Linked DNA regions of Homo sapiens. The protein of the gene in region 2 purifies or fractionates together with the protein of the main gene of each other region. This does not show direct contact. Each region holds a gene or a part of one and is shown on either strand. Other genes may lie near its edges.

Region 1 (3,500 bases), on a different chromosome or scaffold from region 2:
TAACTTTCAATGGGCTTTCTGAAGAGCTGTTCATAGGATGATATTTGGAAGAGTCCTTTCCTTAAGGAAAAAAAGGGTGAACAATAAATAAAGAGTTACTTGCGTTAACGGTCACGTTATTTCATTAAAAGAGAGGAGGAGCAGAAATCTATGACATAGTTGCCCAACATGGCATTTATCTGCTGCAACAGAAAGCTGTAACACTGGCGGGCATTTCACAGTATTTGCGCATAGTAAACTTCTGCCATTGTTAAAGTCTGAGTTAGAATTATCAATGAATTCTTTTTTTTTTGTCTTTTTAAATTTTCTTGATTTTAAAAAATGTATTTGTGTTTTGCAGGTTGGAACGCAAACCCAGTCTGGCCACGTCCCGTGAAGTTGTGGACAAAATGTTTCAGTTTCTGTTCACCTCTGTGCGTGTGTGTGTATGTGTTGTGTGCATGTGTGTGTGTGTGTGTGTGTGGGGGTGGGGGATGGGGTAGGTATGTGCTTTTGGCTCATGTTTGTGATGATAACTGAAGTCTTTTGTGGGTCCGACCTGTTGTAGGGTGTGGGGGAAAGTGAAGGAAGAGAATGAAGGTGAGTCCCCGCCGTTGCAAACCTTCACCAAACCACGCGGCCCAGTTTTCGTGAGTACCCCTGTGTCCCAGAGAGGAGGACCCAGCGTCCTCGGCTCTGCCGCAGGCCTTCTTGGTCTGGTGGGTACTCGAGGCAGTTGAGAACCTTGCTGAGCTGAGCGGGCACCTCGCCTTGCCTGCTGGTTCGACACCTGACCCCCTCCCCCTGGGATTATGTACACGCATCATTGGGCTTCATGGATGTGGAAAGGGGAGCAAAGGATGGTTTGGGGGGTACGTCCGGCTTTAGCGAGGGCGTACGCTTCAGCCCCGACCTTGTCAGTGAGTTGTAGGCGTTGAGGCTGGGCTGCCTCGAGACAGTCACGGCCTGGCCAGATGGCTGGGAGCTGTGCACCTGGATGGAGTCCACCCTCTGCGGGGCGGGCGGCGGGTTGTCTCCCCTGCCAAAGCTCTGGTTTCTGGAGAGGTGAGAGGAATTGGAGGAGTTAGTGTTGTTTCTTTTGAGAGTGGTGGCCTGGTGGCTTCTCGTGAGCGAGTTCGTGGGGTAGCTCCTCTTATAGTCAACCCCGTAGGAAGAGGAGTGGTGCATTTCCAGCCGCTTGCTTAGACCGGTCTGAGACAGGGAGGCTCCCGGGGGACCCAGGGAGGCCTCCCGCTGTGGAACTTTGGGGGGCAGGCTGTCCAGGTTCTCCACAAGGTTCACCCCATGGTTGGGACTCTTGCTGCTGAGATGTTCCTTGATGGTCTTATACTCCAGTGTGGCGGCCTGGTCCTCCAGCGCCATCTGGGCCACCTCGCTCATTTTGGGCTGGTCCACGTACTCATGCTGGTAGCCCTGCTGCGTGATGGGCAGGACCACCACGCTGGGGATGTGGCTGGGGGAGGCCCGCAGGGGCAGGTCCGTGGGAATCACAGGGGAGCCCATGGGGGGCATGTCCTTTGTGCAGGCATTGATGAGGTTCTGGTTCCTCTCCCACTCGCGGCTGCCGCGGCTGGGCTTCCGCTTCTGCTGCAGCGTTGGGGTTGACTCTGGGGTGGGGAGGGCCGTCAGGTCCAGGTGGTGCTGGTCTGCTTTAATGAGCATCTTGGCCGTGTTGCCGGGAGTGGCGAGCTTGCCGTTGTGCATGAGTGGCGTGAGGATGGCCTCCGGCTTTGGGTCTTTGGATTGAGTGTCCCCAAAGAGGCCGCTGAGCTTGGTGACGCTGCTCATGGAGCCCCGGCGCGAGTGGGTGAGCTCCTTCTCCTTGCGCTGCACCACAGCCACGTCTTTGCGCCGATGATCACAGACGCAGTAGACGGTGATGCCCGAGAAGACGGCCCCCATGACGAAAGCCAGGATGACTGCAATGGCCAAGAGGGTGACGGGAACCAGCTGGTCGTGGCCTTTGAGGTAACTTTCCCGAATCACTCCTGCAATAGACATCGCATATGGCGTTAAGAAATGAAAGCACACCCCGAGGCTTGTTTTTGCTTGGCATTCACCTTGTTAATTAATAACAGTAGTAAGTGACAACAGCACCTCTGCACAACTTGTCTTCCAAGCTCAGCTTGCCAAACATTAACCAATTAATCCTCCCCAAGCCCCTCGTGTGCAGTATGTAAATGGACTCCATTTGTAGCCTTCTTTGTTGTCTAAAAAAGTGCTGTTCAGGCCGGGCACGGTGACTCACGCCTGTAATCCCAGCACTTTGGGAGGCCGAGGCGGGTGGATCACGAGGTCAGGAGTTGAAGACCAGCCTGGCCAAGATGGTGAAACCCCCGTCTCTACTAAAAAAAAAAAAAAAAAAAAAAAAAATTAGCCAGGCGCGGTGGCGGGGGCTTGTGATCCTAGGTACTCCGGAGGCTGAGGTAGAGAATTGTTTGAACCTGGGAGGTGGAGGTTGCAGTGAAGGGAGATCAGGCCACTGTACTCCAGCCTGGGTGACAGAGCGAGACTCCGTTTCAAAAAAAGAAAGAAAGAAAAGTGCTGTTCACTCTTTCCAGTACCTGCACTTTCTACTCTGCTTCACTCCAGGGAATATGGGAGGTTTTGGCTTTCAAAAGTTATCTTTCTTTCCTTCTTTATGGCTTTTTAACCTTCCCTTCCTAGAACTGGGATAACCAAGTTATCCTGAGTCTGGAGGAAGAGGCAACAATTTTATGCATGTTAGACAAACAAATCACACACTCTGGGCTTCCAGTTGGGATCTTTTCCGACGGCCCCCTTGTGGCCACCGGAGCCTCCGTCTGGGGAAAAGTGTTTGCCTTTTAAGCAACTAGAGGAAAGAGAGTGTGTGTCATTTTTATTTACACTGAGAGAATATAGCTAAAGTTCACAGACTACAAATGTTTGTGCTGATTTTGCATCACCTCTCAAAAAAAAAAAAAAAAAAAAACAGTGCAAACTCAATTTCAGGTAACTATCCTGAATATTTGAATGAAGCTTTCTCACTGGAACTGAAAGAAGATTCAGAAATAAGACCATTTGGGGCCCTGTAGTGGGTTTGAGAAGTGTTAGGTACCATTATTGCACCTAGAGTTTGCTGTCACAGTGGGATTTTTCAGCAGAGCTAATCTCTTCAATTTAATAAAAATTATGTGACTACACCCATCCGTAATCTTACACTACATTAACCAGGATTCAGTGTTTCTGAAGGAAGGTGCTTTCGCTATTCCTGCTTAATCAGCCACCCAGCTGAGTGACTCTAATCAAATGCAAACACAGAAGCTTTTATTTTTTAATACCAAGTGAGAATACACATCACAGTTGTCAGATCTTAAGTGCTTGATGCAGTCGCTAAAAAATAAAATCTCTAATACCTCAATTCCTGCCTCTGGAGAGTGAAAGAACATGAATACATTAGAGGCACTGCATGGGCTGAGGAAATGTAAACATTGTTCCTATTATGGAAATGATAGCAAGACAGAAAAGGTACCTTCTCT
Region 2 (3,680 bases):
CTGGACACTTCCTCTTTCTGGGGCTCCCACCTCATACCGCTGCCTCTGCCGCCCGTCTCCCTCCGGACGCCCCCTCCAGACGCCCCCTCCGGACGACCACGCAGTGTTGTCTGGCTCTGTGCTCTGTCCACCTGCCTACGTGGCGTCTGCCTGGATTTCCATTTTGGGTCTTGCCTGTGGTGTGCCTGCTCCTGTGTGGACCCTGTGTGTACCTCTGTGGGGACTTTCACACGTGTGTTCCTTGAGTGGGATCCTCTGTATGTGGGTCTGTGTGTGTGGCTGTGGCCCTGTGTTCCTGATGTCCCCATTTGTGTGTACCTCTGTGGGGACTTTCACACGTGTGTTCCTTGAGTGGGATCCTCTGTATGTGGGTCTGTGTGTGTGGCTGTGGCCCTGTGTTCCTGATGTCCCCATTTGTGTGTCCCTCTGTGGGGGACTTTCGCACGTGTGCTCCTTGAGTAGGATCCTCTGTATGTGGGTCTGTGTGTGTGGCTGTGGCCCTGTGTTCCTGATGTCCCCATTTGTGTGTCCCTCTGTGGGGACTTTCGCACGTGTGCTCCTTGAGTGGGATCCTCTGTATGTGGGTCTGTGTGTGTGGCTGTGGCCCCGAGTGTGTTCCTGATGTCCCCATTTGTGTGCCCCTCTGTGGGGGCAGAGACAGGAGCCTGAGCTGCGGAAGAGGCTTTATTGATTAAACGGTTTGAGGATACATTTCCATGTGGGAGGTGGTAGTGGGCGTTGTGTCCACGGCTGCTTGTGTGGCAGGTCCTATGGCTGAGCCATGTCTGAGGTCCACTTAGGCACCGTCCTGACTGCCCAGCACTTGCACCTGGAAGGCAGACACATGTGGACTAAGAGGGCTGTGCTCAATAAGTGGAGAGCCACAGCTCCATCAGGCAAGCAAGGCCCTCAGTGGGGGGGGGTCTGGCATATTGCTGCCTATCTCCTCCCAGCAGCTGGGAGGTGTGTGTGCACATGTGATGGTGTGCACACATGTATGTGTGTGCATATCCCAGTGTGAGCATGTGGGTGTGAACGTGTTTATACATGTGTGCACGCAGTGTACATTTCATGTCTGCACCTGTGTTTGGATCTCTGTGTATGTTCACATGTGTGCATGGAGGAGTATCCCACAGACTGGGGAGGAGGTCTATGGAGTCTGGGGGCTGCTCGGTGGACAGGAGGTCTGGGGTGTCCACCTGAGCTGGCTGATGCGGGTGCAATGTCTGTGGGTGGTGGATGTCTGTGGGTGGGGTAGGCTGTGTGGGTGCTGTGTTGGGTGGTCTTGGTAAGGCTGCAGATCTTTAGAAAATGGGGTGCCCGCCGCCCTCATACCAGCAGCTTGACCAGCTCCGCCTTGTGCATTGGCTGCAGGCCATCTATACAGGACTTGAGTTCAGTCATTGCTGCCTTGGCATCTTCGTTGACATTGTACTTGCCCAAGGTCCCCTCATAGAGCTCCTCTGGGGTCCCCACCAGTAGTGTTTGCAGGAAGTCCATGAAAAACTCATCGTTGTCCTCCCCTGTGGCCATCCCTGCATCACGAGCGAGATGATGCCAGGACAGGACAGGGTGACTCTGGTGCAACCACAGCCCTGGACCTGCCCCAGGGCTCCAACCTCCATGGTCTCCAGACCTTCCCCTTCAATGCCCACCTCTCCTCCCCAGGGCTTCCTCCACAACACCTCCAACTCCACCTTGCCCGAAGACCCCTCCACATCCCCCTTAATCTTAGCTGCTCCAATTTCCACTCAGCATTCCCTGGGATCACCAGGGAAGGAAAGTTAAGCTCCTGGTGTGGGGGAAATTTCCCCTGATGAGAGGCTATTATGACCAGAGGCTTGAAGGGTCAGGTCAGGCTGGACTGGGCTGGGGTAGGAGACACTGGGCTGGTGTTGGGTCAGCTGGGCTTTGTCCTTGGTTGGGGTGGAGTAGGGTGGGCGCGGGTTCTGCAGGGTCCTTGCCCACTTCTGTGACAGAAGCAGGTGGAGTGTTCACTGCAGAGGCCCGATGCCAGGATTTTACCTTCTCAGGTACCCCCCACTCCCCCCCACCCCTGAATGTTCTGGAAACCCCAGTGGCACAGACTCACGGCAGATGCAGAACAGGGTGAGGGCCACCAGCAGGAGGGCACGGCTCCCCTTCATGCCAGCAGTCTCAGGAGCTGCCTCCAGCCAGAATCCCGGGATTTTATGCCTCACCGGACAGCACCTCTCCTAGAGGGCGGACCGGACCTGCCCATTAGGACCCGGCAGCCAGCTTAGATGAGGTTTGTTCACATCCCTGGCCCCCAGTGGGTGCCAAGCAGCAACAGGCATGGAGTGGCTGTGTGACAGGTGGTTGGCAAGCGGCTTTAGGGTGTGTGAGAGAGAGAACAGGTGTGTTAGGAGGGAACACTGGTGAGAGGCCATGCCAACTGATCGGTGAAGAAGGCAGTGGGTCCTGGCCACCAAGGGCCTCTAGTCATGCCTGCCCTTGAGGCCGAGAGTGGTGGGATCTGGGGTTGGTCCCACGCCTTTCTTTTAAGGTGCGAATCCCTCCTCTTATCAGTGTGCTGTGTGATCTGGGTCTGCATCTGGGGGTCTCCAATCAGGCAGGGGCCCCTTACTACTCAGATGGGGTGGCCGAGTAGGGGAAGGGGGTGCAGGCTGCACGAGTGGACACAGCTGTAGGACTACCTGGGGGCTGTGGATCTATGGGGTGGGGAGAAGCCCAGTGACAGTGCCTAGAAGAGAGAAGGTGGCCTGAGAGGGTCTGAGGAACATAGAGCTGGCCATGTTGGGGCCAGGTCTCAGCAGGAAGTGAGGAATGGGACAGGCTTGAGGTACATCTTCCATCAGTAGCCAGGATAGCAAGGAGGGCTTGGGGTTGCTATCCTGGGGTTCAACCCCCCAGGTTGAAGGCCCTGGGGGAGATGGTCCCAGGACATATTACAATGGACACAGGAGGTTGGGACACCTGGAGTCACCAAACAAAACCATGCCAAGAGAGACCATGAGTAGGGGTGTCCCAGTCCAGCCCTCTGACTGAGCTGCATTGTTCAAATCCAAAGGGCCCCTGCTGCCACCTAGTGGCTGATGGCATCCACATGGCCCTGGGCCACACGCGTTTAGGGTCTCTGTGAAGACCAAGATCCTTGTTACATTGAACGACTCCTAAATGAGCAGAGATTTCCACCTATTCGAAACAATCACATAAAATCCCATCCTGGAAAAAGCCTGGGGGATGGCACTAAGGCTAGGGATAGGGTGGGATGAAGATTATAGTTACAGTAAGGGGTTTAGGGTTAGGGATCAACGTTGGTTAGGAGTCAGGGATACAGTAGGGTCACCGGTAAGGGTTAGGGGTTAGGGGTAGGGGTTAGGGTTAGGGTTAGGGTTAGGGGTTAGGGGTTAGGGTTAGGGTTAGGGTTAGGGTTAGGGGTTAGGGGTTAGGGTTAGGGTTAGGTTTTGGGGTGGCGTATTTTGGTCTTATACGCTGTGTTCCACTGGCAATGAAAAGAGTTCTTGTTTTTCCTTCAGCAATTTGTCATTTTTAAAAGAGTTTAGCAATTCTAACAGATATAGACCAGCTGTGCTATCTCATTGTGGTTTTCAATTGTAACCACATTGTGGTTTCAATGTGTTTACTTGCCATCTGTAGATCTTCTTTGGTGAGGTGTCTGTTCAGATGTGTGTGCA

The links. Proteins that work in one complex are often made in the same cells at the same time.
Region 1: the proteins of SCGB1C1 (region 2) and SEMA6A purify together in Homo sapiens (affinity purification with mass spectrometry; one large-scale study listed by BioGRID and IntAct). This does not show direct contact.

What each region holds. Positions count from the first base shown.
Region 1 is NC_000005.10:116,445,824-116,449,323, forward strand, and holds part of SEMA6A (semaphorin-6A isoform 2 precursor), read right to left. Parts: intron 1,989-3,500; coding exon 790-1,988; 3' UTR 1-789. UniProt on the Homo sapiens protein: Cell surface receptor for PLXNA2 that plays an important role in cell-cell signaling. Required for normal granule cell migration in the developing cerebellum.
Region 2 is NC_000011.10:191,567-195,246, reverse strand, and holds SCGB1C1 (secretoglobin family 1C member 1 precursor), read right to left. Parts: upstream 2,148-3,680; coding exon 2,093-2,147; intron 1,536-2,092; coding exon 1,336-1,535; intron 830-1,335; coding exon 797-829; 3' UTR 672-796; downstream 1-671.